Regions from separate parts of the Homo sapiens genome. Here regions 1, 3 and 4 are each linked to region 2. Evidence: fine-mapped expression QTL. A gene starts in region 2. Each other region holds a variant in brackets. All regions are shown on one strand. Distances are from middle to middle.

The links. PIP is the estimated chance that this variant, and not a neighbour inherited with it, causes the effect. A credible set is the group of variants that fine-mapping cannot tell apart.
Region 1: its variant is the best candidate, but not a certain one, in a credible set for the expression of NECTIN3 in whole blood (INTERVAL, PIP 0.51).
Region 3: its variant is the best candidate, but not a certain one, in a credible set for the expression of NECTIN3 in fibroblasts (GTEx, PIP 0.63).
Region 4: its variant is the best candidate, but not a certain one, in a credible set for the expression of NECTIN3 in B cells (Schmiedel 2018, PIP 0.75).

Annotation. Positions count from the first base shown.
Region 1 is chr3:111,013,305-111,021,451 of GRCh38, reverse strand. The region is part of intron 2 of LOC151760 (putative uncharacterized protein LOC151760); the gene reads left to right. Among named protein-coding and RNA genes, the nearest start is that of NECTIN3-AS1, 53 kb to the left of the region's middle. The variant G/A (reference allele first, on the strand shown) is at 4,875.
Region 2 is chr3:111,067,318-111,075,452 of GRCh38, reverse strand. NECTIN3 (nectin cell adhesion molecule 3) reads right to left here and starts at 3,637. Exons shown (of 6, transcript NM_015480.3): 1 at 3,276-3,637. The coding sequence starts at 3,435. NECTIN3-AS1 (NECTIN3 antisense RNA 1) reads left to right here and starts at 5,494. Exons shown (of 4, transcript NR_045114.1): 1 at 5,494-5,663; 2 at 5,982-6,189. LOC151760 (putative uncharacterized protein LOC151760) reads left to right here and starts at 3,687. Exons shown (of 4, transcript XR_007096272.1): 1 at 3,687-3,961; 2 at 5,982-6,189. RefSeq lists a silencer at 3,810-3,909.
Region 3 is chr3:111,175,094-111,183,093 of GRCh38, reverse strand. It overlaps a transcript of NECTIN3 not described here. Among named protein-coding and RNA genes, the nearest start is that of NECTIN3, 110 kb to the right of the region's middle. The variant G/A (reference allele first, on the strand shown) is at 3,270.
Region 4 is chr3:111,525,936-111,534,082 of GRCh38, reverse strand. The region is part of intron 2 of LOC105374039 (a long non-coding RNA gene); the gene reads right to left. Among named protein-coding and RNA genes, the nearest start is that of CD96, 12 kb to the left of the region's middle. The variant G/A (reference allele first, on the strand shown) is at 3,928.

The sequences.
Region 1 (8,147 bases), 54 kb after region 2:
CCATGTAGTTGAGCGGTTTTGAGTGAGATTCTTAATCCTGAGTTCTAGTTTGATTGCACTGTGGTCTGAGAGATAGTTTGTTATAATTTCTGTTCTTTTACATTTGCTGAGGAGAGCTTTACTTCCAAGTATGTGGTCAATTTTGGAATAGGTGTGGTATGGTGCTGAAAAAAATGTATATTCTGTTGATTTGGGGTGGAGAGTTCTGTAGATGTCTATTATGTCCGCTTGGTGCAGAGCTGAGTTCAATTCCTGTGTATCCTTGTTGACTTTCTGTCTCATTGATCTGTCTAATGTTGACAGTGGGGTGTTAAAGTCTCCCATTATTAATGTTTGGGAGTCTAAGTCTCTTTGTAGGTCACTCAGGACTTGCTTTATGAATCTGGGTGCTCCTGTATTGGGTGCATATATATTTAGGATAGTTAGCTCCTCTTGTTGAATTGATCCCTTTACCATTATGTAATGGCCTTCTTTGTCTCTTTTGATCTTTGTTGGTTTAAAGTCTGTTTTATCAGAGACTAGGATTGCAACCCCTGCCTTTTTTAGTTTTCCATTTGCTTGGTAGATCTTCCTCCATCCTTTTATTTTGAGCCTATGTGTGTCTCTGCACGTGAGATGGGTTTCCTGAATACAGCACACTGATGGGTCTTGACTCTTTATCCAACTTGCCAGTCTGTGTCTTTTAATTGGAGCATTTAGTCCATTTACATTTAAAGTTAATATTGTTATGTGTGAATTTGATCCTGTCATTCTGATGTTAGCTGGTGATTTTGCTCGTTAGTTGATGCAGTTTCTTCCTAGTCTCGATGGTCTTTACATTTTGGCATGATTTTGCAGCGGCTGGTACCGGTTGTTCGTTTCCATGTTTAGCGCTTCCTTCAGGAGCTCTTTTAGGGCAGGCCTGGTGGTGACAAAATCTCTCAGCATTTGCTTGTCTGTAAAGTATTTTATTTCTCCTTCACTTATGAAGCTTAGTTTGGCTGGATATGAAATTCTGGGTTGAAAATTCTTTTCTTTAAGAATGTTGAATATTGGCCCCCACTCTCTTCTGGCTTGTAGGGTTTCTGCCGAGAGATCCGCTGTTAGTCTGATGGGCTTCCCTTTGAGGGTAACCCGACCTTTCTTTCTGGCTGCCCTTAACATTTTTTCCTTCATTTCAACTTTGGTGAATCTGACAATTATGTGTCTTGGAGTTGCTCTTCTCGAGGAATATCTTTGTGGCGTTCTCTGTATTTCCTGAATCTGAATGTTGGCCTGCCTTGCTAGATTGGGGAAGTTCTCCTGGATAATATCCTGCAGAGTGTTTTCCAACTTGGTTCCATTCTCCGCATCACTTTCAGGTACACCAATCAGACGTAGCTTTGGTCTTTTCACATAGTCCCATATTTCTTGGAGGCTTTGCTCATTTCTTTTTATTCTTTTTTCTCTAAACTTCCCTTCTCGCTTCATTTCATTCATTTCATCTTCCATTGCTGATACCCTTTCTTCCAGTTGATCGCATCGGCTCCTGAGGCTTCTGCATTCTTCACGTAGTTCTCGAGCCTTGGTTTTCAGCTCCATGAGCTCCTTTAAGCACTTCTCTGTATTGGTTATTCTAGTTATACATTCTTCTAAATTTTTTTCAAAGTTTTCAACTTCTTTGCCTTTGGTTTGAATGTCCTCCCGTAGCTCAGAGTAATTTGATCGTCTGAAGCCTTCTTCTCTCAGCTCGTCAAAGTCATTCTCCATCCAGCTTTGTTCCGTTGCTGGTGAGGAACTGCATTCCTTTGGAGGAGGAGAGGTGCTCTGCATTTTAGAGTTTCCAGTTTTTCTGTTCTGTTTTTTCCCCATCTTTGTGGTTTTATCTACTTTTGGTCTTTGATGATGGTGATGTACAGATGGGTTTTTGGTGTGGATGTCCTTTCTGTTTGTTAGTTTTCCTTCTAACAGACAGGACCCTCAGCTGCATGTCTGTTGGAATACCCTGCCATGTGAGGTGTCAGTGTGCCCCTGCTGGGGGGTGCCTCTGAGTTAGGCTGCTCGGGGGTCAGGGGTCAGGGACCCACTTGAGGAGGCGGTCTGCCCATTCTCAGATCTCCAGCTGCGTACTGGGAGAACCACTGCTCTCTTCAAAGCTGTCAGACAGGGACATTTAAGTCTGCAGAGGTTCCTGCTGTCTTTTTGTTTGTCTGTGCCCTGCCCCCAGAGGTGGAGCCTACAGAGGCAGGCAGGCCTCCTTGAGCTGTGGTGGGCTCCACCCAGTTGGAGCTTCCTGGCTGCTTCGTTTACCTAAGCAAGCCTGGGCAATGGCGGGCGCCCGTCCCCCAGCCTCGCTGCCGCCTTGCAGTTTGATCTCAGACTGCTGTGCTAGCAATCAGCGAGACTCCGTGGGCGTAGGACCCTCCGAGCCAGGTGTGGGATATAGTCCCGTGGTGCGCCGTTTTTTAAGCCAGTCTGAAAAGCGCAATATTCGGGTGGGAGTGACTCGATTTTCCAGGTGCGTCCGTCACCCCTTTCTTTGACTCGGAAAGGGAACTCCCTGACCCCTTGCGCTTCCCAGGTGAGGCAATGCCTCGCCCTGCTTCGGCTCGCGCACGGTGCGCGCACCCACTGGCCTGCGCCCACTGTCTGGCACTCCCTAGTGAGATGAACCCGGTACCTCAGATGGAAATGCAGAAATCACCCGTCTTCTGCGTCGCTCACGCTGGGAGCTGTAGACCGGAGCTGTTCCTATTCGGCCATCTTGGCTCCTCCCCTATATGTTTTATTATACTTTAAGTTCTAGGGTACATGTGTACAACGTGCAGGTTTGTTACATGTGTATACATGTGCCATGTTGGTGTGCTGTACCCATTAACTCGTCATTTACATTAGGTGTATCTCCTAATGCTATCCCTCCCCCGTCCCCCCACCCCACAACAGGCCCCGGTGTGTGATGTTCCCTTTCCTGTGTCCAAGTGTTCTCCTTGTTCAATTCCCACCTATGAGTGAGAACATGCGGTGTTTGGTATTTTGTCCTTGCGATAGTTTGTTGAGAATGATGGTTTCCAGCTTCATCCACGTTCTTTGTGTTGAGAATGATGGTTTCCAGCTTCATCCACGTTCCTACAAAGAACGTGAACTCATCATTTTTTATGGCTGCGTAGTATTCCATGGTGTATATGTGCCACATTTTCTTTATCCAGTCTATCACTGTTGGACATTTGGGTTGGTTCCAAGTCTGCTATTGTGATTAGCGCTGCAATAAACATACGTGTGCATGTGTCTTTATAGCAGCATGATTTATATTCCTTCGGGTATATACCCAGTAATGGGATGGCTGGGTCAAATGGTATTTCTAGTTCTAAATCCCTGAGGAATCGCCACACTGACTTCCACAATGGTTGAACTAGTTTACAGTCCCACCAACAGTGTAAAAGTGTTCCTATTTCTCCATATCCTCTCCAGCACCTGTTGTTTCCTGACTTTTTAATGATCACCATTCTAACTGGTGTGAGATGGTACCTCATTATGGTTCTGATTTGCATTTCTCTGATGGCCAGTGATGATGAGCATTTTTTTATGTGTCTGTTGGCTGCATAAATGTCTTCTTTTGAGAAGCGTCTGTTCATATCCTTCACCCACTTTTTGATGGGGTTGTTTTTTTCTTGTAAATTTGTTTGAGTTCATTGTAGATTCTGGATATTAGCCCTTTGCCAGATGAGTAGATTGCAAAAATTTTCTCTCGTTCTGTAGGTTGCCTGTTCACTCTGATGGTGGTTTCTTCTGCTGTGCAGAAGCTCTATAGTTTAATTAGATCCCATTTGTCAATTTTGGCTTTTGTTGCCATTGCCTTTGGTGTTTTAGACATGAAGTCCTTGCCCATGCCTATGTTCTGAATGGTATTGCCTAGGTTTTCTTCTAGGGTTTTTAGGGTTGTAGGTCTAACATTTAAGTCTTTAATCCATCTTGAATTAATTTTTGTATAAGGTGTAAGGAAGGGATCCAGTTTCAGCTTTCTACATATGGCAAGCCAGTTTTCCCAGCACCATTTGTTAAATGGTAATCTATTGTTTTTAAAATTCAGACGGGAAAATGATTTTCTACCTGGAATTCTATACTTATACAAAGTATCAAGTGTGAGGGTGGAGAAAAGAAAAACATCTTCAGTCAGCAAAGAATCAGAATATTTGCCTCCAGCAATACAGGTAGAAAATCAGGAGATAGGAAGACATGAAATCTAGGAAATTGTTGCTGCAAGCCAGAAGAGTAGTCAAGGATAGTCACAGGATACCTATGCAGCAGGTTTGGAGAGCAGCAGCCCCAAATGAAGCAGCAAGTTGAGATAGAAACTTTCTGTGATTAGGGGTGGGGAGAGACAGGACTCATTTTATAAATACATGATATGATGAGACTTCAGAAAAAAAAAAGTAAGAATGACTTTAAGAAATAATATATAAGAGTAAAGTGAAATAATTAGGAATTCCAGAAACAAACCGAAAAACTGTGTAAGAAATAACTATAGTAAAACTGCTTGGGTGAGGGTCCAACTACTTGACTGCAGTGATATTTATGTATCTTCGAAATATAAACACTGTTAGGTTACTTAACTAAAAATTATATAAATATATTGGAAGGAATTGGAGAGAGGTTGTGGCTGTGTTGTAACAGCTAAATCCTCACATATTAGAGAAAGACATAAATAGTGTCTAACATTGGTAAATCAAGAATAGCAATATAGGCTGCACGTGATGGCTCACGCCTGTAACCCCAGCACTTGAGAGGATGTGTTGGGAGGAAGGTTTGAGCCTAGGCTTTGGAGATCAGCCTAGACAACACAGTGGGACTTGATCTCTGCAAAAAATAAAAAAATTAGCCAGGCTTGGTGGCTTGGCTGTGTTCTCAGTTGCTTGGGA[G/A]GCTGAGGTGTGAGAATCGCTTGAGCCTGGGAGGTTGAGGCTGTAGGGAGCTGTGGTGGTGTCACTGCATTCCAGCCTGAATAACAGAGCAAGACACTGTCACTAAAAAAAGAATAGCAATATAAACATATTATTTATAAATGCAGCAGCTTGTATTAAAAAGAGATTATCTTTAGGGAATGGAATCTGGTGTTGGAGAGATATGGAGAAAAATGGTTGATATATTCATTATAACTTTTTCAGTACTATTTGATTTTTATAAGCATACATATTGCATCGCTTTTATATAAACATGATTTTAAAAATTCTTTTCAAATGATTCTCAGAGTTCAAAAGTTTTCAAACCTCTTTTCAGTTATCAAAATGATGAGAATATACAGACTGGCTGTGCTGTAATCTGTTCAGTTTACTTTGATTGATATAGTATAAGCCCCTATTTCTTAAACTAGCCTATGTGGTTTTAGTCTAGGTGTTCTAATTCTTACTTTACTGATGAAGGTGTCTTAAAACTTAATTAGCTAATGCCTATAAAGGGATTTCAGGTACTTGGATAAATGGCTTAGTCAATGTTGAAGCTATTTTTTCTAATGAGAAATTTTAAGGTATATTTAGCTATGACTTTTATTTGGCATCAAATGACAAGAAAATATAGAAAACTGAACATTAGAACAACCACTGTGACATTCTATTACAGTCTGTTGTAGTTTTTAAAACTTCAGATATTTTTTAAATCAAAAGAAATGTATTTTATACTTCTTAGAGGTCACCAAAATGAAGGAGGAATAAAATATAGAGGGTAAAGTTAAATCAAATTTTAAAAGTAACAAAAATCATCCTCATATCATTACCTGGTATCAGATGATATTAAAGAAAGAGAAAAAGGTTGTGATATAAAAATTTAAATCATATTTATTGAGCAACTACTGTAAGTCAGACCTTGTTGATAGCTTATTTCAAATAGAGCTGACTTTTGAACAATATGGGTTTGAGCTGTGTGGACATGCTTGTATGTGTTCTTTTTGTCTAACCAAATGCAGACTGAAAATACAGTATTCTCAGATGCAACCCAAGTATATGGAGGACTGACTTTTCATATACACGGGTTGTAGGGAGTCAACTGTAGGATTTAAGTATGCATGGATTTGGTTATATGGGGATTACTCTGGAACTAACAATCCTCCACATGGATGACTGTACATAATCTCTTCCAACCCATGTCATTTTCATTGTGCAGATAAGGAAATGAACTTCAGAAATCTTAAGTGACTTGTTCAAAATTACCTAGTTAATGTAAATTTATAGCTTAGGCCTGTACAATCTAACTCAAAGTTGTACGCAATTCAACATGCTGTGAGGTTTTCTGATAAAGCATGTGAAGCAAAAATGAAGATAATGAGGGAGATAATACTAACAGGGTACAGTGGCAGTTGTTGTGTATTGCTACCAAATTTGAAAGGCTTTGAGTTCACAAGTTGGGCCTCAAACTTTCCGACAAACTTGTGTTTAGTTTGGAAAAGTAGAGAATGAGGATAAAAAATAATTTGGGGAGATTTAGATATAGGCTGTTGTTGAGTAACAGGGAAAAGAACTTAAATTTCTAGATTGGTGGTTCTCAAAGTGGGGTCCCTGGACTAGCAGCATCGACATTTCCTGAAAGCTTATTAGAAATGCAAATTCTTGGGCCCCAATCTAGATCCAGACATGTTTCTCAGACCTTAGTTACATAGGAATTCCATGGGCAGCTAGTTACAAAAATTCCTGGGTCCCACCTTCAGAGATTCTGATTCAGTTGGTGTGAGGTGGGGACTAGAAATTTGTACCTCTAACAAACTTTCAGGTGACGTTGGTGCTGCCATTCTGCAGACCATGTTTTTACTTGAATTGTAGATCACCATATTCCATAATAGGTTATCAACTAATTATTGTTCAAAGAGTGAATATATGAATGTGTGAACTTTGCATCAGGACAAGGAATTGGTACAGTGTAGTGGGATAGGTAGAAAGGAGGGTAAGAATGGAAGAACCAGGTAGATAGGCAGAACAGACAGATCAGTCAAAAGGCCTAGTAGTTAGGTTTGTACCTAGAGTGGTTGATGTTTACATCAAGTACTTATGTTAGGAGATGATCTAGAATATTTCTTAGCAGCCCTAGTTTGGTTTTATTAATCCTCCATTTATTAGGTCTGAAACATGGCAAGAAATGGGCTCTTTTTATTAGTGATTGCAGTTACTTTTAACCAAAAGACCATGAATCATTGGAGGGAAGAAGCAGCAAGTAGCAATTAATATTTTAAGTTTTAGCATCATATTATTATTTTTTCTTCCAAGGCAACTCCCCAAATGGGATGTCTAACCAAGACCCTGTCAACATCCTCTAATCTTTCCCTTTCACATCAGGAGTAAGAAGTAGTGCTTGAGCATATATAATTTTTTTAAAAATCAACTTCCTTAGTGTTAAATATTCTAAAATAAAGATTTAAAACTTAAAAAAATTAAGTATAAAACATATTTTCATCTCAAAAAAAAACCCACACCCCCTATACCTTTATATCATTTCCGACTTCTTACCCAAATCTGGAAAGAAATGTTGAAGTTGCATTTACAGATTCAATGGAACATACTGTATTTGTTTTCAAGAACAAAGGTTCAGAAATATATTGTGTAGGTTGTTTGTAATTTGAGGGTCATATTTAACAAAAACAAACACCTCCATACAGAATTCAGAAATCCATAGAAAATTTTATTATGTTTAGTGGTACTAGGTATAGGGCAACTTTTTCATTTCTTGTAGAGAGAGACCAGAATATTCACTGAATTATAGAGTGGGGAGGAACCTTGGGAGACTCAAACCCTGTTCATTCAGACCAGGGGGTAAAATAAAGGGAAAAAATGAAGTTTGATTTTGTGTTCCACATACTAAAAGATAAACAAAAATACAAACTCTAAGCCTTTGAATTAGAAGACTGAGGAGGAAAGGACCCACTATACTGGAGAAATTTATTTTTCAAGTTGTCAAGGGTATTAGAAATGTCTCTCAAATTTTGGCTTATGAATCTATATTATATTGAGTTTCTCCAGAAACAGACCCTGAGAAAAGGATTCAAGTCCAAGTGGTTTACTTGAGACCTGATTTCAGGAAAAACCAGTAGAGAAGTGAGGAAGAGAGATAGAGAAGGGAAGGCAGCCAATAGAGTGCATCATCATGCAAGTTACCACTGAGGATAGAAGGAGCTTCATCCTGCCGGAGAACACTGGAGCCAATGTAGAACATGT
Region 2 (8,135 bases):
CAAGGTAGTAATGTTATCTCTTTATAAAACAAGAGAAACTTCAAGTTTCCAAGGTTAAATAACCTGCCAATGATTTACAGCTAGAGAGAGAAAGAGAAAGAGAGGAAGGGAGGGAAGGACAGGGAAGGAAGAAGACATCTCAATAAGATCTGACCCAAATGATGTTTTAAAAATGACTGTTTTTTTCATTGCACATTCATAAGTCTTTACCTAATGGGTTAGGTGTCCCATTTCCGGGCAAATCAAAATACCTCACAAACACCAAACTGTTCTACAATCATGTTTCCTTTAGGTCGAACCCAAAGTTACAAGCATCTTGAAGCCAGGACTCTGTCTTATGCGTGTGTTATGTCCCCAAGTGCCTATCAAGTAGTCAAAGTGCTTTTAAAAGTTCCATATCATATCAGATCTTCTTTTCTGTGCTCTTTTAAACATTCATCTTAAGATGAAGCCTTGCTGAAAATGGAAAGAGGCATAGAATCTCAGAGCCAAATGGGACCTTACAAAGGTCAGTCTATCTTGTTATTCATCATTACCATACCCATGATAATATTCTCTATGTCCCCTGAAAAAAAAACGGTGGGAAGTAAAAGTGAGATAAATCTAATCATCTATGAATTGATTATTGCCATCATAAAGAAACTTCGAATTTCATAATTAAATGACGTTTATCAAGTCAGATGATGACGTAAGCCCAGTCCCCTTGACACTTATACCTAGGAATCTCTTAGGCTTAAAAACAAAAAAAAAATCTGGCAATTTGACAACCTGTAAAACTCTCATTTTAAAAGTTCAGTTCTCCAAATAAGATAATGCACACCCCCAAAACAAACGGCCAGCAAGTCTGATATAAACATTTTTATAGCCTTCAGAATATCAGGTCCACCAGTTTTGATGGATATTTTTAACAGTTAAATTAACACGATAAAGTTAAGGCCACGCTATATATCAAACATATCAAAATATCAAAAATAGCAGCAAAAGGAAAAATCTATATGTCATAAAACAAGTAAAGCATTCTCATCAACAAATCATCAGCTACAGTCATATTTTTAAAGCTTAAAAATCTTTTCAACTCTAAAACTGGCTCCACGCAAATATTAATTACATGCCAAACCTTGTAAGCAGTACTATGAACATCATTATAACTCTATTAACTAAAACAGTAGTTAAATCAACAACTTGTTAGACTAACAGCTTACTTGAAGAAAATTTTGCTTCCATACCACTAAGCTTCCATAAGTCACAACATCTGTGCCCTATTCAAAGACTTAATTCCAAAATAAAGGTTGATGGAAAAAACTCGTCATAAAGGTTCACAAATTAGGGTGTTATAACACTATAAGCCAAAAAAGGAAGCTGTTTAAATGAGTAGCACACAGGAATACAAAACCAGTGTCTACCTCTACAACAAGAAGAGTTGACTCTAAACACTACACCTGCTCTAAAACACAGTCCATTTGCCTACACTGCTTAAGTTTTTAAGCTCTGAATTAAAAATCAAGTCCTTCCAATGCTACATTGAGATTTTTTAAAACTGTTTTCTTCTTCCATGTGAAAACCAATGTGTTCCTTCAAAAAGTAATCAACAATTCATTTTCACAACCACTAAGAAATTATCATGTAAATAATTCCTGCATCAGCTATGCATATTACCTGGCTTCAGTCTTCCACAGAGCTTTGCCTAACTAGATCTGCCTCTGTGGAGGTATAAATATTCTCTCAGTCCTTAACATAAACGAAGTCAGGATAGTAAACTGGTAAGGTCCCCTCCAACTGTCCTCTCACTCAACTGTAAGCAACATCCCCAATTCTCCTTCATGGAATAGAACAGCACACAAATTCAATCTAGACTCTGGCATCAATTTAAAAAGGTATAGCATTAAGAACTTTGTCTTGGAACCAAGTATCTGCGGAGTCGGCATACAGAAACAGCGTACAATTAATAACATTCCATTTACCATACTATACTCTGTGTAAATCAGATTTCATTACAGTGCTGGAAACGTGGTGGTAAACTGTCAGTGGAAATTCTCAGCCCAGAAGAGACACTCAATCCCATCATGCAAACTTTGCTTCCCTCATAACCAACTACCCTGACTCACCTACCATGTAACAGGATTCTCCTCCTTCTAAATCACACTATTCAAGAAATGTGCACACATCTCTCCTTTTAATAAATACTAGTAAAACTTCAGTTTACGGTTTTATGAAATACTGAAAACCAATCTTTGACCAAGCTTAAGTTCTGCCCCTCTACTTTTCTTACCAAGAGCCCTCAAATAAATAACTACTCGCAGTGTTCTGATACTCCTCCTCCCACCAAAGACTGGTGTCCTTATTTTCCCAAATCGCTGCCTCCCATTAATTACCACTTAAGTCCATTTCTCTTGCATGAGGCAGACTTTTTTTTTTTTTTTTTTTTTAGCACAGTCCTTAATAAGCAGGCTTCTAGTCTGGCATACCTGGGAAGAAAACTCAGAGACTAACTCCCAAATATGACAGGAAAACAGTAACATAACACGAGGGTCAAGAGATGGGAAACAGGCGCGTGACTGTTTTGGTTAGAACAGCCGGGGCACACAGTCCATGAAATCAGGTATTTAACACGTAAATCTTGTTCCTGCGGTTTGGTAAAATAAGCACGGGCAGTGTGAGAGACGTCCCACAAGCTGGAGGGCAGGGACGAGGGTCAATCTAGAGAGCTCCAGAAGCTGTCAGGGCAGAGCCGGGGGAGTGGGCACAAGACAGAAGAAAACTAGCTGTAGGGGATTCTGCGGCTGGGTGGGCTAAAATGGTGCCTTCTCCAGGGTGGAAGGCCATGAGAAGTGGACCCGGAGGCTTCATTCCATCGGGCTCCGGTCCCTAGGGTTTCTGGGCTCACAGCTCAAGTTTCACCGGGAAAAAAAGCGGCAAACGTGCATCCCGGCACCTTAACCTACGAGGGTTCCCAGAGAATGAGCGAGGAAGTAACGGTCCCCGGAGCAAACCCGGAGTTCGGCGCACGAAGCACCATCGCCAACCCTCGGCCATCCGCACGGCGACCCGCGCGGCCGCGGGGGAGGGCAGCGGGCCGCCGGCTCAGCATTCGCTGGCCTGGCCCTTCCAGGGCCTCGCCCCGGGCGCGGCGAAAAGTTTCCAGCCAAAGTCCTCGGCACTCGCTCGCACAACCAACCGCCTCGCTGCTCCAGAGAACGGCTGGCAGAGCCGGCCGCGGCGCCCGCACCCTCAGTGGCGGCTCCCTCAGCCCACGCCGGCCGCCGAGGTTCACCTACCACAGAGCCTGGAGAAGAGCAGCAGCGGGAAGAGCAGCAGCAGCAGCGGAGGTGGCGTCGGGGGCTGCAGCAGGAGCCCGGCTCCGAGGAGAGAAGCGGAGGAAAGTTGTGCTTTGCCGCCTCCAGGACACAGCGGGGACGGCCGCAGGGTCCGCGCCATCCCCCACCCTCCCCCCGGCCCGCTCGCCCGCCCGCCCCCCGGCTCCCCCGGCCCCGGCGCCTCAGGCTCTGGGCGGAGGCTGTGGAAGGTCCGGCGCGCGCGTCCCCAGCTCCCAGCTCTAGCGCCGTCGCTGCCGGCTGACACTTGGCCGAACGCTGGCGGCTGCCTCGACACCGCCGTCGCCGACGCCACTGCCGAGGCTGAAGCGGGAGCCGCCCGCCGCCGCCGCCACTCCCCTCCCCTCGGCACCCGCCCGCGTCGAACTCCTGGGAACTCGGAACGCACCACCCCGCCCCACGCAAGAGGGGGAAAAGAAACCGACTCTCAGAGCGGGCGCCCGACTCGCCCGCCCTCCCCGCGCAACTCCACCTCCCGTCTGATCCCCGGGCGCAAGCCCTGTCTCCTCCCACCCCGCCCTCCTACACATGCTCCTCCCCTTTCAAAAAAAAATATTCTTTTCATCCACTTTGATAACGGGGTTTCTCCCACAGCAGAGATTTAAAAGGGACAGGAAAATCTGGAATAGGTTAGTCGGCCCCGCCCCTCGTTCCTGCCTGGTTTCCCCCCTTCCCTGCCTTTCCAATGGTCTCGCCCACTCCACCCCTCGCGGGTCCACGGGGGCCCCGGCGCCGACTGAGGCGAGGGCTGCGGGACAATCACGCTCGGCCTTCTCCTCTCCCGGGCGGCGCTCTCCCTGTGGCGGGGACCTGGGACGAGGGGGTGGGGTGGGGAGGGGAAGGCAGGAGGGGGCTGCCCTTCCGTTGCCCATGCTAAAGGTTCCTGTGTAGGAAGCTGGACGCAGCCTGCTGGACTAGTAATCTTCCTCCTCGCTGGGGCGCGGGGCACTGAAGGGAGGGAGAGACTTTCTCCTCCTTCCTGTTCCCCGGGACAGCTGTGCTCTCCGAATCCTTCCCTTCTTCCCAGCCCACTTATTCCCCGCTCGCCAAGGCACGTTTGCACAGGCATTTTTCCTGCTCTTTTTTCTGGGAGGGCAGCTTGGTAGAATGGTCGGCGGAGCTGGGCGAGGAGAGGGGTCTTCAGAAGGTTTGCTTTCTTGCTCTTGCTTCTCACTGGCCGCTGGGCTGTCCACTTTCCGCGCCGGGCGACTGGCAACAGGAGGCCATGGATTTCCCCCAACGAGTGCGTTGGTGTTTTTCTTTGGTTTTGTTTCCTTTGCATGTTCGTATGTGTAGTTTTATTTTCTTGCCTGTTTTCGTTTGATGGCAGAGAGGCGACCTCGGGAAGTATTAAACATTTGCCCGTATAAGAAGAGCGTCTGTGGTCCACCATGACCCTCGCTCATCCCAGGTGGCTCTCCGCCCTGCCCTCTCCATCCTCCCGCCTCGCACAGTACCGGCAGCTTGACCTTGGAGCCACTGCCACATTGGTTCCGCGGGGGGAGTAGGAGGGTGGACAATTTGGACTGTCCAGCGTAGGGGGTGAATTGAAGGCAGAGGACACCAGTCCTCAGGCCTGACACTATTAATTTTATGTAGGTCCTGTCATCTCCACGAGATAGCCATAAATGTGTTCCAGTAACAGGAAAGCTGAACAAGGATCAGCCGCCCAGAAGTTAGCCTGTCGCAGCTAAACTAATGCATGCTTGCGGCCAAGACCACGCTGTCCTCGGCTTTCAGTCAATAGGGTCTTCCCACCTTCCGCCCGCTGGATTACAAGGCTTTACTAACCTCCAAGGCTACAAGCCATTCTACACCCTGCCCACCTCTTTTTTCTTTCTTAACTTCTGCCTCCCTTCCAGTCTCCCAGCGCTCGGTCTAGTGCCTTTTTCCCTCCAGCCCTTTCCTCTTCCCTCCCTCCCTGTGCCTGTCTGCCTCTGTCGTCCCCTGTAAGCTTGTCTCCTGCAGCCAAGGCTTTCTATCACCTATTCTCAAGATGCACTTATGAATAAACCTTGTCCTGCATCGCTCCGGGAGATCCCCTGATGATGATCATAATTGACAAAATGTAGCTATTGTGACATTCCTCAGCTGTGCTGACACCACCGTTTCCCTTGAGAAAATTTCTTTTTCTATATTCGCATTCCCTAAACCTAATTTCACTGCTAAATTTAGACAGCTCACTGCGCAGCCACTAGCTAATTATCTGTTTAGATAGCACTTTAACACGTTGTTGAGACTCAGTTAAATGTTAAACAACCAAAATTTTAATATCACTAGCCAATTTCATTCTTCCAGGTTTTCCCTGATGGCTCCACATCTCCAAGAAAAGTAATTTAGCCAACATTTCAAAAAATACCAAAGGCTTAACTTGGGTAGGGGCCATCGGGCAATTGCTACAGAGACCATAAGGAATTAGCAGGTTAAGTTCGTCTCAAAAAGATGACATGGAGCTTTAACAAATATATTTCCTCCATACTTACAGAAATTGAATAGTGGTCTGCTATGATATTCTCTGACCTAAAGTGAAGAGAGAGCATGGAAGAGCATTATTTATAGATGTTATATAAGCATTAAAAGAGCACCATGCTGGTGTTTTATGTGCATATATGTATTATATTCTAATAATAATAATTTGTGTTTATACAGCATCTTCAACTAAAGATGTCAAAGCACAAGCTCACTTCCCACGGAAGGTAGCAATTACTATTATCTACTTGACAGCTACAAGAACCTAGGCACAGAGGTTAAGTGCTCTGCAAATACTACCAGCCAGTGGTGGTTTTCCTGCCAGAACCAAGTTCTTGCCTTCCAGTGGACACCATTGATCTCTCAAGATGATTCTTTAAGTTAAAAAGTAAGATAACTCAAATTTCTACTTTCTATAATAAAAGTGCCCAATCTTAAATTACATTCTCCTCAGATGAGTGAATTTTAGACATACTCACCCCAAGCTTTCCTGTTGGAAATTTTTACTGGCCACAGAAAAAGATTTTACATTACATATACAACTCATGTTTTTCAAGGGCAGAAATACTATTAATTTTTTTAAAACCTTTAGCATGAGAGTATTAGTGCGTTCTATGCCATTTTTAGTCTTCTAACTTTATACATAAGTTCACATTTATTGTTTGAATAACAAACTGTTTAAGGAATACTTAATTATAGCTAACTTATTAATATTTCTGACACCATTGAATAACAAAGTATACATGCATTTTTTCAGAAAAAAATTATCTGAACAGAAAGCAATGTAATCCTAATGCCAACAATAGTTTCATTGTTTTGGGTTAAGAGTACTGATGGTGTCCATCCTACTTTCGGCTCAAAGATTGTTTGCCAATTATCAAGGTTCATTAACTCTTAACTAAAAAACAAAGGTTGACATCTTAACAAAGAAGTAATTATGTACAGTGCTGGGCATTTTACATTTACTCAAATAATCCAAGTGAAAAGTTTGAGACTATTATTAGAATTTCATAGCTGACTCTGAAACAAAGGAGGTATTTTACAGGAGAGGTAAGACATTATATACTTCAGCTAATTCTTCTTAACATCAGCAAATTCTATAACCTGCTGTGTGAGGACGCATAGCTTTTCCTTTAGTAAAAGAGATGAATGATATTTTGTAGAATATTTGAACTTTGTACTATATTTGATAATAAGCTTATGTTATCCAGTTAGGATCACAGTTTTTGTAAAGAGAATTATGCAAATAATAAAAAACAAACTGCAAAATCGCAGAAAAGTCCATCCACTTGCAAAACGTTCACCAACCTTACTCTTATTAAATGCAAGTCTTTCTTACTGAACAGATCTTCCCTGTATGCTCATATGACTTTCTCCCTCCTATTTCCTTTGAATCTTTGATAAAATTTAACTTTATCATTGAGGCTCTCCAGGACCACATCATATGAAAGAGCTTCCCCCACCCTAATCCCTATGCCCTTAACTTGCTTTATTTTCTCCATTGCCCTTACCATCTGACATGTCTCTAATTTACTGTCTGTTCCCTTTCACTAGAATGAACAGTCCACAAGGGCAAGCAAGTATCTATATTTTCACTGTTAAAACTCAAGTAGGCCAGGCACAGTGCCTCCTGCCTGAAATCCCACCACTTTGGGAGGCCAAGGCTGGCAGATTGCTTGGGTCCAGGAGTTCAAGACGAGCCTGGCAACATGGCTGTGTTAGTCTGTTCTCATGCTGCTAATAACGACATACTTGAGATTGTGTAATTTATAAAGGAAAGAGGTTTAATTGACTCACAGTTCCACATGGCTTGGGAGGCCTTAATCATGGAAGAAGGCAAGGAGGAGCAAAGTGGTGGCAGGCAAGAGAACATGTCCAGGAAAACTCCCCTTTATAAAACCATCAGATCTCATGAGACTTATTCACTATCAGGAGAACAGCACAGGAAAGACCTGCCCCCATGATTCGATCACCTTCCACTAGGTCCCTTCCACAACACGTGGGAATTGTGGGAGCTACAATTAAAGATGAGATTTGGGTGGGTACACAGCCAAACCATATCAATAGCAAAACCTCCTTTCTCCTATAAATACAAAAAAAAAAAAATTAGCCGGGTGTAGTGATGTGCTCTTGTAGTCCCAGCTACTTTGAAGGCTGAGGTACGAGAATCAGCTGAGCCCAGGAGGTCGAGGCTGCAGTGAGCCAAGATTGCATCCCTGTACTCTAGCCTAGGCAGCTGGAGAAAGACCCTGTCCCCCAAAAAAAACCAAAACCAGAACAAAACAAAACAAAAACCCCAAGTACCTAGAATAATGTCTGCCATATAGATTCCAA
Region 3 (8,000 bases), 110 kb before region 2:
GGAAAAATTGAAATGCATATTAAAATTCATCTAATATATATGAAGTAGTATTATGTAATATTAAGGTAGATAGTGATAAGTTAAAAATGTGTATGCTAAATACTAAATAAATGTATTTAAATTAAAAAATACTTAATCACTCAGCTAATTTAAAAGAAGGCAGGAAAAGTGAAAAAAAGGACAAAGATCCAATGGGACAAACAGAAGACAAATAACAAGATGATGGACTTAAGCTGAACCACAGCAATAAATAAGTTAAGTAAAAGTGGCAATAAACATAAACATAGCAATTTAAGGTAAGGATTTTCAGATTGGTAACAAGGCAATACCCAACTACATGTGACCAATATGAAAATTATTGTAAATATGTTAAGACATAGATTGGTTAAAAGCAAAGGGATGGAAAAACACACACTATACACAAATCATAAAAAAAAAAGTTTGAAAACCAGAGTAGCTATAGTAATATCAGACAAAGTAACTTCAGGACAAATAAAATTATCAGAAATCAAAAAGGATCTTTCATAAATGATAAAAGGATCAGTTTATCAAGAAGACATAACAATCCTACATGTGTACATATCCAATAAGAGAACTACAAAAATATATGAATAACCGACAGAATTGAAAGGAGAAATGGATATATTCACAAATGTAGTAGAAAATAACATTCCCATCTTAGTTACTATAGAAATGAAAAAGGAAAATCAGTACATATTTATAAGACTTGAACAACACTATCAACCAACTTGACCTAAGTGACATTTATAAACCACCACATCCAACAACAGCGTAACATACGTTAGTTTCAGTACACATAAAAACATTCACTAAGACAGACTATACTCTGGGTTTTAAAAGAAGTCTCAATATACTTAAAAGATTGAAGTGAAACAGATATATTTTCTAACCATAAAAAAATTAACGAAAAATAAATAATTAAAACATTTGAAAATTTCAAAATGTTTGTAAAATATACTTCTAAATAACTAATTAAGCAAAGAAATAAAAGATAAACTAGAAAATATTTAACTGAATAATGATATCTTAAAAAGCCAAAGTTTGCATAATTTCAAACAAAGAAGTGCTCAAAGGAAACTTTGTATTTTTAAATGCTTGTATTAGAAAAGAAGAAAGGACTGAAATTAATGATCTAAGCTTAAGAAACTGAAAAAAGAACAAATTAAATCCAAAGGAAGTAGAAAAAAAGAGTGAAAAATCAATAAACAAGCAAAACAAACACACAAACAATGGAGAGAATTAATAAAATCAAAATCTGTTTCTTTGAAAATATTAATAAAATGGGAAAACCCCTAGCAAGAAAAAGAGAAAACACAAATCAATATCAAAATGAAAAAGGTGACATTACTGCTGATCCCATATAAATTAAAAGGTTAAAAAAGTGTATTATGAAAAATCTGATGCCAATTAACTTTGACAACCTAGATGAAACTAATAAATATACTGAAAGGCACAATTAAAATCCTTCCACAAAGAAACTCCAGGCCCAGATGATTTCACTAGTAAATTCTACCAAACATTTTAAAGAAGGAATAACACTGCTCTTAAAAATTATTTCAGCAAATGGAGAAAAAGAGAATACTTTGAAACTCCTTTTATGAGATTAACATCATCTGGATACTAAAACCAGAAAAATACATTACAAAAAAAGGAAAAAGGTTTTTTTCTTCACAACATCCCAAAACTTTAAACCAAAATGGTCCTCAACAGATGAATGAATATAAAAAATTATAGTATACTCATAAAATAGGACACTTCTCAGCAATAAAACAAAGTTTATTCATGCAATAACATGGGTGAATCTTAAAAACATTATACTGAGCAAAAGAAATTGGACGCAAAAGAGCACACTGGGATTCCATTCATGTGAGGTTCTTTTAAAATGGCATAACTAATATATTGTGACAGAAATCACAACAATGGTTGCCAGAGAAAGGAAGTGTGGGATGATGGTGGTGGTAGTGGTGATACTGATGGTGGAGGGTATACATGAGAAATTTTTCAGGTGATGGAAAAGTTCTTGCTTGGGGCAATGGTTACATCCATGTACATATTTGGCAAGGCTATGAAAATGTACACTTAAAATATGGCATGGTATTATGTAAACTCCAACTCAATAAAGTTTTTTTAAAAAAAACTCTAACTTGTCATTTTATTATAATTACTCCGTTTTGGAGAAACATGGGTAGGGAGATTAAGTAAACTGAGAAGTCATTGACATAGTCTGGAATCTGCTACGAAAAAAGTACATATTAAATTCTTAATAAATACTTTACAACAGACTGTCCCTGATGCAGAAGTTTCTCCGTTAAAAAGTATCCAATTGCTTATTTGGATGACTGAGTTCCTAATCTAGAGAGATGATTTCTCCACACTAAAGGAGCAACACATAAAGAACTGGCCACCACATATAATTCACAAAATATGGATTCTTCAAGGCATATAGGATATTACACTCATATCTATTAAGTACCTCTCTAAAAGAATTAATATAATATTATTAAAACTGTGAACCAAAGATTGATTTCTCTTTCACTTTTTTAAATAGTTATGAGAGAGGTCGACTTTGTTTCAGGATCAGCAACTATAAAGATTGTACACTAATCAGGCAAAATTTACAACAACGTTAATTAGGCAGTTGTTTAATGAGATACATAATTGTTACTGTTCTCCAAGATAATTACACATATGCGTACGCTAGTCATATGAATGTCTCTCATTATTTTAGCAGACCCTTAGTATTCACAGATTTAACATTGCTGGTTCCAAGCATTCATGAGTAAGCTTAAAAGGTTTATGACAGGTAGTAATTTATAATTTTGTTGAGACATAAATTGGAATCAAGACCTGGAAGGTTTTCAATATGAGGCTAATCATTTAGCTATATCCATTTCTCAAGGTGTCTTTTATTCTCAACTCTTATATATGAGTTTTATAAAAGATAGGGGTATTTAGTAATGCAGGGTTTCTCAAAATTCTATGAAGTATTCTCTGTGAATGTCAATGGGGTTGCTGTATTATTAATCAACTTTTTTCTTTTAAATTTGAAATTTTGTCTGTTAATTTTTAAGTTAATTATTAGTTCTCTAATATCTACAATCAGTTGTGATCAGTGCAGACTGCCATCACATATTATACAAGTTAAATGTGTAAAGTCTGCCTGGATCTTTTTTTTTTTTTTTGAGACAGAGTCTTGCTCTGTCACCCAGGCTGGAGTGCAGTGGTGTGACCTCGGCTCACTGCAAGCT[G/A]TCTCCCAGGTTCACACCATTCTTCTGCCTCAGCCTTCCGAGTAGCTTGGACTACAGGTCCCGCCGCCACACTCAGCTAATTTTTTGTATTTTTAGTAGAGACGGGGTTTCACCGTGTTAGCCAGGATGGTCTCGATCTCCTGACCTCGTGATCTGCCCATCTCGGCCTCCCAAAGTGCTGGGATTACAGGTGTGAGCCACCGCGCCCAGCCAGTTTGCCTAGATCTTATTCCCCAAGACTTGAGATTTATTTGCTTATAGTTCCTCTGTCCCAATGTCTTCTGTCTGTGTATTACATCCCATAAATCCTTTCCTGTTAACCCACTAAGAGAATGACAGATTTCTCCCAAACCACACATGCTGCTATCAGAGTAGGTGCTCAGTAAACACTTACTGAAAAGCTATCATTGCATAGAAACTGACTCCCACTTTTAGTCAGAGGTCCCCACAGATATCTTGGGTGCTAGCTTTGTTGAGAAACCTGTGCCAGCTGGACTGGAAATCTTGAGGTCTGAATTACTACTTGCAAAGAACAGGGCAGGGATAGGTCTGAGATGGTTCATGGGAAGGGAGTGAATGCTGTGAAAAGACGTTCTAGATCCTTGGGACTTAGATAGACTGGAGGAGAGGTTCTAGCATTTAAGAAAGAAGGCAAGAGAACATGAAAGTTGGCTCAATAATGGCAACATGATTAAAACAGACAGCATTAGGCTTAGCTTAGGTAAAACTACAATTACAACTTATAAGGACTGACAAAAGATTCTTCCCTTACTACCTGCCTTATCCATATAGCAGGTAGCTATATAGCCAAGTTTTATTACAGCCAAGATTTATAGTAAGACAAGCACTGTTTAAGATGCTTTGGTTATACTCATAGTCTTACACTATGCCCTTGAGGCAATATCACTGTCCCCATATCACAGATGAAGAAACTGAGGCCTAGAATGATTGAGCAATGGTTCCAAGTATGTAGAGCTAAGATTCAAATTCATCTTTATGTAACTCCAAAGTCTGTGCCTTAAACCATCACATAAAACTTCCCATCTTGAGTATATCCAGTCTCTTAAACTGCTTGCAGAAAGGGGCTAAAAAGTGGGAAGACAATGAACATTTGAGAGGGCAGATGGCATATAAGTGAGGAGAAAGACCAGTGATGCTCAAGACTGGCGAGCTTTGCCACATGCTCTGGTTTATCGTCATCCGTACGAGTCTAAGTTACTTCACCTCCTGCTTGAGCTCCAGCCTCAATTAGAGGAAAACAAAGGCAAGGCTTTTCTTAAGCAGTAATGAGACTCTGAGAGTTTCCCATTCTGCCCCAGCCCAGGGCTGAACATACAGTGGTCATTTGTTGTAGGATAATGCCTTAAAAATTTATGAGGAGGGTATTTCCCCTCTCTTTTTGAGTGTCTGTTTATACTCAGAGTGATATAGTGCAGTACCTCAAAATGCAATGTCTAGTCCCCTAATTTGTAATATTATAGATTGTAATGAGTCAGTTAAAGAAGAAATGACTACAGAAAGAAAGTCCTCATGGCTAACTTTTCAAATACAGGCTGCTATCATGAGGTTTATTTGCAAGATAGAATATTGGATATTTTATCCCACAAGGTAGCACTGAATTTTTCTGAAGTCAACCACAGAGTTGTAACAGCTTAGTTGTTGAAAATGCTGTCTTAACCAAAAGGAAGGCAGTGTTTCTTGTTATCACTGGTAAATAAATTTCATTACTTCTACTGAGTATACATTCTAGGTTTTAATTTTTCAAAGCGAAATGTGATACGACACATTTTAATGAAATTTCTTATTTTGGTTTATGGTCTTGCTTAATTCTCATATTAAAATACACAAGAAAGTGATACTTTACCTAAATTTTAATACATATGCAAAGCAAAGTACCTAATTAAAGCAGATAGATGGTAAAGGTGATGAATTATTTGCAGGCAAATGATATCCAAATATAATTCCAAGATGCTCTTAATCATAAATCCTAACCATTTCTGGGGTACAAATGCACATATGCACTGTTTTCCATAACTAATAAATGCCTACACATTTTAACACCAGAAAACCATGCTGTCATTTTCACAAGGGGCATCTCTGCTTTTCAATGCGATGCCCTAATGCTGTACCTATTTACCCACTCATACCATTTTATCTCCAAATTTTCCCATAAGGTAAACCTTAGTTTCATCAACACACCCGAACACCCTCAAAGATGGTAGCTGTCTTTTCTGTATCAAGCACAGTATTGTCACAAAGCCATCAAGTAGAGAAAATCACCTATCATCATACTACACAGTATCTTAAAAAATACACATCTTAAAAGATGTGTTCTCAGAGAAGCTATGCCAAAAATCATTCCAGTACTGCCTAGATGTTGTAATGATCAAAATTTTACATGCTAAAATAAGAACCAAAATTGAATTCCTCTCTAGAGATCATTAATATGGGCCTTCCCAAATCTCATATTTAATCTAGCATCTAAGTTCCTTCTTGCTGTCTTCCTTATCTACATGTATAATAAATATCGATTAGAGAAAAATTAGATAAATATTTTTAAATAATAAATGAATAAAAAGGTAAGGGTATAGATAAATGTGGGCCTCCTTAGAAATGCCACCTTATTTCATACATTAACTCAGTTCTTCTTTTTAAAAACTTAATTTTTATGTCTTTTTGAAATAACCATAAGTAATTTCAAAGCTAACTGTTGACCCTTAACTCAAAGAACTAGAAAAAGACACTCTGTTAAGATTTTCTAAGTGGTTAATAATTTATGCCATTCTTTGCAAAAATAAGAGTAAAAATTAAAACAGAAAAGGCCGCCTAAAATCTTCAATACGGAATGTATTTTAGTTCCTAAAACAACAGGCTATATACTAAGTGAAGAATGCCAGTTCCCTTATATTCCTTCCTATTGAAAGATGAGACAATACAGAAATAATTTCCCTTACCAACAATCTATTTTTCCTACTGAGGGTGTAATAGAAATGTAGAAAATGAAATACAAAAGGGTCTCTATCCATTTACCTAATGGTTACTTTCTAGAAGCCTTCTAAGTTATCTCTTGAACATATTTTTACATGTATTTTTGGGGGGATCTTAAATTTAATTGAATGATATTTTTCAACATTTTCCCAGAAGAAAAAAAAAAGAAAATAAAGGTAACATATATAGTTTCTCCTTCTGAAGGAAAATAACCTAATAATGGTTAAGAAGGTAAAATACAAAGAGAAACTGTCTGCTATGGAAAGTTAATATTAACTTTCAGGAACACCAATTTTTTAAATATAAAACCCAAAGAATGCAGTTTTATTTGAATTGAGAAGTAACTGTAGTCTCAATTTGGCATTTCCCCCCACAAAGACACTAAAGTTTTAAGTGACCTGCACAGAGGCAGCTTGAGCTAGAACTCAGTTTATGAGTTTAGGAGAGCCAGAGAGCATCAGTGATTAGAATGAAAGTTCACAGCACCAGTGACTTTAAAAGGAAAGTGAAGCAGATAATACAAAAGCTGGAGAATCCTTCCAGTGAAGGTAGGTTGCATGATTAATAAAATGAGTCAAGGATTTTTCTTGTTTTCAATGCACCCTACAGTGTCACTATTTAATTTTTACATAGTGATACTGACTTAGATGCTACTCCATGAGGCAAGAACAGTGAAAACTATTTTCTCTTCATGTACACGTAATTCATATGGCCAAATAGAGTTTGGGTATTTTCTTCTGGCCCCTAAAACAGGCTAATAACTACAAATAACAGGCCATCTACTTAGTGTGGAATTGGTAAATGTCATTGCAGGATGACATTTCTTGACCTGATAGTGAAAGGAATCACTCTGTTAAGATAGGAACATTTTCACTGTAACAAATAACTAAATGTAGACTTTTGGAAAAATAGTAGAGGAAATAAATTTTTTAAAATACCAATGCAAAAAAACATTTAACAGTTAAAAACATTATTTTACCTACTCCCTGAACAAATTGGATGGCCCCACCCTCTGGGTGACCCTGGCTGGAATTGGTAATACTTATGGAGACCTCCTTGGGAGCCATCAGAGGCTGTTACTGAAGCAGAAGCAGCTCTTCCCTCGGTCCCAGGAAGTTAGTTAAAACACAGTGAGAAATGTCATCATGTTTGCAATATCTAGTTTGAAATCTGATGAGAATTGTGGTTCTGTGTCTATGAGAACTGAGCTCTACAGAGGTGAATGGACTGAAAATTAATAATTTGATGTTCTGAAATAATCTCATCCTAAGTAATATCTACTTGTGAAAGAATGTATGGGCCCTGTCCTCCAGGAATTTATAATCTTGTTTCATGTGGCTTGTCATTCAAACAGTTAAACAACAAAGCGAGGCAATTTGAACACAAGTGGGAGGCCTTTCTATGCTTTTACTTGTCTTTATCTCCCATGGTACTGATACAAACAGAAGACACTGGGTAGAAGAGGGTGGTTGCCTGGCAAAGGTCCCACCCTCAAGCCTGGAGACCAGCGGCCCTAAATGGGGACAACATTCCTGTTTTCATGCCCAAGAAGTTGCCTTTTGGCCCACCGTGCCCACTATCCTGTACCCATATAAACCAAAACCCCAGGCTCCAAAAGCTGACCAGCAGGCAAGGAGAGGAGGGGACAAGCAGATGGATGGCGGAACAATGTGACAGAGAAATAGAGAAGAGGAGCAACATTTGAACACTGAGAGGAGTTTGGCTGGAGGTGGTGGAAGAGGA
Region 4 (8,147 bases), 460 kb before region 2:
GGGGACAGAGACCAAATACATAATTCTTATTACATCACAATATCACACCCACCTTTTCATTCCAGCTGTCATGGGTCCAACAGGCTGCTCAAATGTAAGCCTGAAAGCACCTCTCCTCAGCTGCCCTAAATATCTCTTACTTTCTGACCTGGGCATCTCTGCCTCCTCAGCAAGGGAAGGGGGATAGGTGGGGGTGGAGGCCTCATTCCACTCATCCATGCATACACATGCGTGACCTTGGAAGTGCAGGGAGTCAACACCTCATCGGGCAACCTTTGATCAATGGGGAACAGGAGCTTGTGTTGCTCAGGTGAAAGATTCTAAGATGCGTTCTACACAGATCCTAAGAAAGTGCCCAGAGGGACCCAGACAACAGTGGACCATAGTGTAAGCTGCTTGATATTGCACCCTTGCATTGACTTGCCCTCCTTCCCTGTTTCACTCTTTTTCACCCCCACTCCTGTTCCATGCGATTACATCCCAAAGTAACTGTAGGCAGGCCCTTGTCTCAGGCTGTGCTTTTGTGGAGAATGCATGCTAAGGCTGTCTGATTACTCCACTGCTATATTTCTAGCCCCGAGAATGGTATTGAGCACATAATAGACACTATATGAATATTTTTTGATGAAACTCTTGAGTAAGTAAATCCATTTCCCATCAATAGAAATAATACAGCATACACATTTCACAAGGTCCACAAAATTGAAATAAACTAGTCAGAGTTCTAAAAATAAGATATATTCTTAATTTTGCTGAGTGTCTCAACAAATACTGAGCTCCACTTAAATGTCTGGCACTAGGATTGATCTGTACAGGAGACAAAGATAAATAATATCTCTTCTCCCATGATATTATCTCAGCGTTATCAAGAAGAGGGATGCCCAGAGTAGCTATGAGCAGTTCAAGGAGCCCATTAGATCTGCCACCAATTATCACCCGTAGGTCTCCTGTGGAGTATGTGAGATGAAGGAAATTAGCAGCACATAAAAAAGCAGACCATATTTGCCCTGCCAGAGAGAATATAAATCTTAAGACATTTTGTGACTGGCTTTCCAAGTGCTCAAATCAACTGTAGAAAATAGAGAAATTCTTGTTACCTAAGGGATGGAATTCAATAGCAGTACTTAAGATAGATAAAAATAAGGATGACAAACCTATCTCTACCAATGACAAGATTCTTTTTTTTGAAAGCCAGAGGGTTAAGGGATCTAATGCTATAACTATGGGAAAATGAGTATTATAAAATCCAGGTCTCTTACATATAGGCACATAATATTACAAAATCTCAGAAAAGCTGCAATACAACTTTTGCTGTCACTAGTGGCTTAGCATTGACTGAAGTCATTGCTCCCTGGGAGCTAAATTACCCCAGAGTTGACAAGCCAGTCTAGTCTCAGTAGAAAACAGAAGGCACATTCAAAAGTGATAATTGAATAGAGTTTAATATAGGGGCTATATATAAAGATGTAGTAGGGCTTAGGGGAGACCAGGGGTAGCATAGTTCTTAGGGGCTAGCAACATTGGGAAGCCACTTTCTTTCCTATGACTGCAGGGAAATGGGAGACAGCCATGAGAGAGGGTAGCTGCAGGGAGAGAGCCTCCCAACAGGAACTGTGGCCTTCATCATGGATGTGTAGCCAAGCCTTGGCAACCCCTCAGTTAGAAACCTAGGGATATAAGTATCTCGATGCCACTCTCCCTCCTATTGAGGGTTTTAAGAATACAAATTTTATGTAACGATTAAATGGTATAAGATGTTGTATTAGTTTTCTAGGACTGCTGTCACAAACTACCACAAACTTGGTGGCTTAAAATCAAAGAAATTCAGTTTCTTACAAATATGAAGACTAGAGGTCCAAAATCAAGGTGTTAGCAGGGCTATGCTTCCTCCAAAGGCTCTAGGGGACAAACTGTTCCTTGACTCTTCCAGCTTCTGGGGCTGTGAGCTTCATTCCAGTTATTTCAGTCTTCTCATGGCCTTCTCCTCCTTTCCCTGTGTCATCTCCTCTTCTGTTTCTTATAAGGACATTAGTCATTGGATTTAAGGCCCACCCCATTAATTCAGGAGGATCTCTTCTTGAGATCCTTAATTTAATTACATCTGCAAAAATCCTTTTTCCAAATTAGATCATATTTACAGGTGCTTTTCACATATATCTTGAGGGGTCACCATTAATCCCACTAAAGATATAATGAAGTAAAATATTTTCAGCAAATTAAGCATGCTATCAACACTGAGAAAACTGGAGGCGTGTAGTGGATACTGTGGTGCACTGTCCCATTTCCCCGTTCACGACTGAAGCACTAATTTTTTCTGCTGCTGGGAGTGTTGCCTGCTGATGGCTCATAGCTGCATCACTTTCCAAGAATTTCCTTAATCTAAAGAAAGCTGCCTCTCTAAGTTTTTGCTTTCTCCCTGGGAACAGCCCACTGGTAATGAGTGGATAATGAAGGAGGATGCACAAAGGTCTGGCTTTGTGCCTCAATTCTTGATAACTCTAAAGGGACATCCCAGCTCTAGAGCTGTCTTGTGGGAAGGGCTGAGGCTTCTGTTGCAACTTCGTTGGAAGGCAGCTTCTCCTTCCATCCCCTCTTGCTTCCCTCACTCCCTTGTAGGTGTTGTTCTCAAGAGCACTTCTTGATAAAGCTTTTGTAGGCAAATTTCACCACAGTGTCTGTTTTCCAGGGGCCTTGATTTAAGACATACTCCCACATGAGATGAACCATCAATAGTCTAAGTAGCTCAGAAGGAGGCTTTTTGGAGAACCATCCTCCCAATGCCTAAACAAAAGAAGTTTTATGCTCCATTGTGTGGGCTCTCTGTCTTACTATTGCCCCTGTGATAAGAAACATGAGGTAAGAAGTTAAACACAAAAACTAGAAGAATGAAAACCTTTTCAAAATAGAAGTAATATTTTTCAAGAATTGGACAGAAGTCTAAGTGGATGGTTAGTGGGTATTGAGAAATTAAATCAAGATCTTATCATATCATAGAAGATTTGAGAATATATTTTTAAACAGAAAATGAAAGCCAAAAGTCCTGGATATTGAGAACAGAAATTAAGAAAAAATATCTAAGTGTGGCTAGAGAAAAAGGAACATGTGCTAAAAGTAAAAAAGTAATGAATCCATAGCAATCCTGGGATGGCACAAGTTTCCCACAGTGTTGAATCCTCTCTTTTGACAGTAGAGACAAGCAGTGTGGAGTCTTCCTCCTCAGTGATTTGCACCAACAGCCAACCTTTCAACAGGTGTGGTTTCTCGGTACTGACCTCTAAGCTGCAGAGACTAAGCAGCATCCAGCCTGGCCTCCAGACACTTCCTGTCTATACCCCCAGTAGAAGTAATTGATAGAAAGGCATCAAAATCCTCTCCACTGGGGCTTGTTTTGCCATGTCAGAATCCAAAATCATTTTTGAAAATCACACCTAAGACTTTACAGAGAGAGATATATATATATACATATATATACACATGTGTATATACATGTATAACCTGTGCTAATTTGGGCTGTTCAGCACAGAGAAAATCTTGTACAGAACATGGATCCAAGGCATATCAGATATACTTTGGTTCTTGGCTCTGCCACTTTCTAGCTGTGGCCTTACACAGAAGCTATATCGGGGGAACCTGCCCCCAATATTTAAATGTAGGTTCTTTCTATTTTCCGTAAGTGTCAGCTGGCTGAGAAATAAAGAGAAAGAGTACAAAGAGAGGAATTTTACAGCTGGGCTGCTGGGGGTGACATCACATATCGGTAGGACCATGATGCCCACCTGAGCCTCAAAACCAGCAGGTTTTTATTAAGGATTTCAAAAGGGGAGGGGATGTATGAACAGGGAGGAGGTCACAAAGATCACATGCTTCAAAGGGCAAAAAGCAGAACAAAGATCACTTGCTTCTGAGGAAACAGGACAAAGGGCAAAA[G/A]GCAGAACTTCTGATAAGGGTCTATGTTCAGTGATGCACATATTGTCTTGATAAACATCTTAACAGAAAACAGGGTTCGAGAGCAGAGAACCAGTCTGATCAAAAATTTACCAGGATGGAGTTTCCCAATCCTAGTAAGCCTGAGGGTACTGCAGGAGACCAGAGCGTATCTCAGTCCTTATCTCAACCACATAGGACAGACATTCCCAGAGTGGCCGTTTATAGACCTCCCTCCAGGAATGAATTCCTTTCCCAGGGTATTAATATCAATATTCCTTGCTAGGAAAAGAATTTAGCGATATCTTCCCTACTTGCATGTCCGTTTATAGGCTCTCTGCAAGAAGAAAAATATGGCTCTTTTTGCCTGACCCCACAGGTAGTCAGACCTTATGGTTGCCTTCCCTTGCTCCCTAAAAATTGCTGTTATTCTGTTCTTTTTCAAGGTGCACTGATTTCATATTGTTCAAATACACATGTTTTACCATGAATTTGTACAGTTAACACAATTATCATAGTAGTCCTGAGGTGATGTACATCCTCAGCTTACGAAGATAACAGGATTAAGAGATTAAAGTAAAACAGGTGTAAGAAATTATAAAAGTATTATTTGGGAACTGATAAATGTCCATGAAATCTTCACAATTTATGTTCCTCTGCCGCAGCTCCAGCTGTTCCCTCCATTCGGGGTCCCTGACTTCTCGCAACTTCTCTCCCTTTCTTTTTATATAAATGTGCCATGGTGATGAAGGCTTGTTCGTTCTCTTGGTTTTGACACAGGATTCTTTGACTGGTCTGGCACACTAAAAACAAGCTGATTAAACAGGGAAACCTAATCCCAAAATTTACTACAGTGGAGCCCCCAATAGACTTAATCCAAATTGTGGGATTTAGTCCAGAAAGACTTTCTGCCACCTGATCTAACGCCTCAGCTCCAGGCACAATGGATAAATGAGCTTGAGAGACTTCAAAAATTTGTTTCTTTAGTTTAGTTATGTCCAAGGATAAATTATCTTCCCTACCCAGAAGGTGTCCTTTGACCATTTCCCATGAATGATCAGTCTCATTGTAGGAATATGGTGTGATACAGAAATCAGAAGTATTCTAATCGCACTGCATTTGCATGTGATGTTCGAGACTCATAAGCCGATCCCCAAGCCAAATAACAGACTGTCTTAAATCATTAATTTGATTAGCTAATATTTGATCGATGCCTTGTTGAGAATTCCACATTTGGGTGGAACTGGCTTGCCAATCATTAGCAAAATGAGCCATTTGAATAGATTGGTGTAATGCCACTCTGGCAGTGGTGGCCAGTGCAGTGACTGTAATTAGGCCCATGATCACAGCAATTACAGTGAAAACAAATCTCTTAGATCTTTTGAGAATTCGTTGTAACACTTCATTAATTAAATGTACTGAGGGGGAAGATTCCCAAGGTCTGGGTAAAGTTACTGGTATCTAGATTCCTTCTTGAGTTTGAACCAACATTACACTTTTCCTGAAGTCAAAATGGGAATGAACACAAGTGTATAAATGACAATTATTGCATTGGACAGTTTGACTGTTTGTCCAAATTTTGATATTTCCCATTAACAGCATGTAAGGAGGCTTAACACAACTCTGTATAGGAATAGTCAGGTTGGAGGTAAACAAAGCAGAATGTTTGAATCTATGTCGATACTGAGGGAGAGGAGTGGTGGTGGCAATGCCCGATGTTCTCCGCTGTAAAGAAGCAATCTGAGGTGCCCAGGGATGCTGAAGAGGTGGAGGGGTATACCCGGGTTGAGAAGAATTATTATTATGCCAATTGGAGTCCCATAAAGTAGGATCAGCATCAAAAAGAGGAAAAGGGTTCAAAGGGGATTTACCATGGGGTTCAGAATCACGGATGCAAGGGGCGGTAGTGGGGACAACAGACAGAAAAGTTTCCCCCTCCCATACTCAGAGTCTGGACATGACAATAGCCAATTTCCTATGTTCTGGGTGTTCTGGGCTCAGAATGGGGAATATCATATGAGGCCTCAGGTGGGGGGTAATGCCCTTATATTCCCATTTTAAGGGAAAGAATGAGCTGAACCTCCTACGCAAAGTAGGATGATGATCCTCGCCCTCCCAATAAGAAATAAAATAAGTACCCTCCAGGCATTCCCTTCTGCCAGAGGAGTAATTGTTTTTTAAATAGCCCTTTGGTGCCCAGCCTATTACTAAACCATATGGGTTTTTTTTAATACTGCTGCATGTGAGTTAACACAGTCTTCCCAAATTAAAGTTTTAGATGGGCCCTCAAAATTTTTAGGACATGGTTTTCCTACAGGTTTATATTGAAAGTATGGGGTATCTCCTATTACTCCCCTTTTTATTTGTCTTAAAGGAGAAAGGGAGAGGCCGGAGACCAAATGTCCTCCTTCCCTTGTAGCTAATCTCTCTGGAAGATAAGCAGACCAGACTTGAGTTTCTAGATGGATACAACCAGGTGCATGTCCGAGGCACAGAGGACGGTATTTATAACCCATAGTAACATTAAATGCAATGCCCTCTTCTCCTGGTTGAGCAGGGCAACGGTCATCTCTAGCTCCAGGCATCCACACACGATCGTTAGTATAGATTTCCTCAGGAGCATCCATCCAGGTGAAAGTTCGAATAAGTGGAGGAAAAGGCACATAAGCCCAATAAGAATAATTTTGTGTAGCAGGTAAATCAGTTTGAGGGGAAACTGGTGAGACAGAAAGTATAAGGAGGAGAATTATTAAATAAAACCAATTTAAGCAAGGTCCAGTGCTGAAGGAAGAAGAGAAGAACAGAGGGTTGTTATTTTCAGACTAATAGAAATGGCGAGATTTTTAGGTTCATAAGGAGAAAAAGAAAGGGAATTAGGAGAAGTGGGATTAGTTAGAGGGGTCTCCATTGCCATTAGGGAGGATTAAACCAGACCCATTTTGATTTGGCATGCCAGTTTCTGCAGAGTCGGCACAGATCTCACCAGGTATGATGGCGGTCTCTGACGCAGATGTCTTTTCCTTGTGGTTTTCATTGTCAGTATTTACAGGAAGTTTAAGTCTTCTAGTGGGCACCCAGACAGGGGATTGATGATCTCCAGGTGAAACACAAGCATACCCTCGTCCCCACATTAAAATTGTTCCAGGTTCCCAGGTATTGGTCTGGGAGTTTTTCCATAATACTGGCTTGCTTCCATTTAGGGAGAATTTTTTCCCTGTATAATGGCGTTCAGCTGCAGTCAGAGTATTGTCTTTAGGAACATTTAGAAAGTTTAAAGTAAACAATGCTAAATGTAATTGGGAGTGGGGAGTGGTTACATTATGCTTTTGTTGCTCAGACTGTTTGGACAATGGAGTTTTGAAAGTGCGATTGGCCCATTCCACCACAGCCTGTCTCTGAGGAAGTACTTTCTATTCATAATGAGCTGCAGGCTCCTGATTATTGATAATGGTACAGTAAAAGCAAATTTTTCACAATCCGATTTATGTAAAACAATATGAAAGAAACAGTCTTTAAGGTCAATCACTATGAGAGGCCAATTTTTAGGTATTAAAGCAGGGGCAGGCACGCCGGGTTGGACAGGTCCCATAGGTTTAATTACAGCATTAATGGCCCTTAAATCAGTTACCATCCTCCGCTCACCTGAATTTTTTTTTTTTTTTTTTTTTTTTTTTACTGGAAACACAGGAGAATTCCAGGACAAAAGAGACGGTTCCACATTTCCAACTTATAACTGTTCAGAAACCAATTGAGTTAAAGCCTCCAGTTTTTCTTTAGAGAGCAGCCACTGCTGAATCCAAACAGGTGTTTCAGATTTCCATTACAAAGTTACAGGATTAGGAGGCATGGCAGTGGCCGTCATTAAAAGGGATAACCTAAACCAGCCCTGTCTTCTTTTACAGTAACTTGAAGAGGTTTAGTAATTCCTTCATGTCTTGGACCGAGACCAAGTCTGGGAACAAACCCCATGTTTTCCATTATATGTTGACTGGGAACACTATAAGAGTTACATGGAATATTAATTTCAGCCCCCCACTGCGCCAGCAAATCTCTACCCCAAATATTAATGGGGGTTGGTGTGATATAAGGCTGAATTGTACCCTTTTGACCATCAGCACCAGTGCAAGGCAAGATAAATGTGCTCTGGTGAAATTCATCAGCTTTTCCAACACCTACTAGTCCCATGTTAGCGGGATGTTTAAGCCAGGAGGAAGGCCATAAAT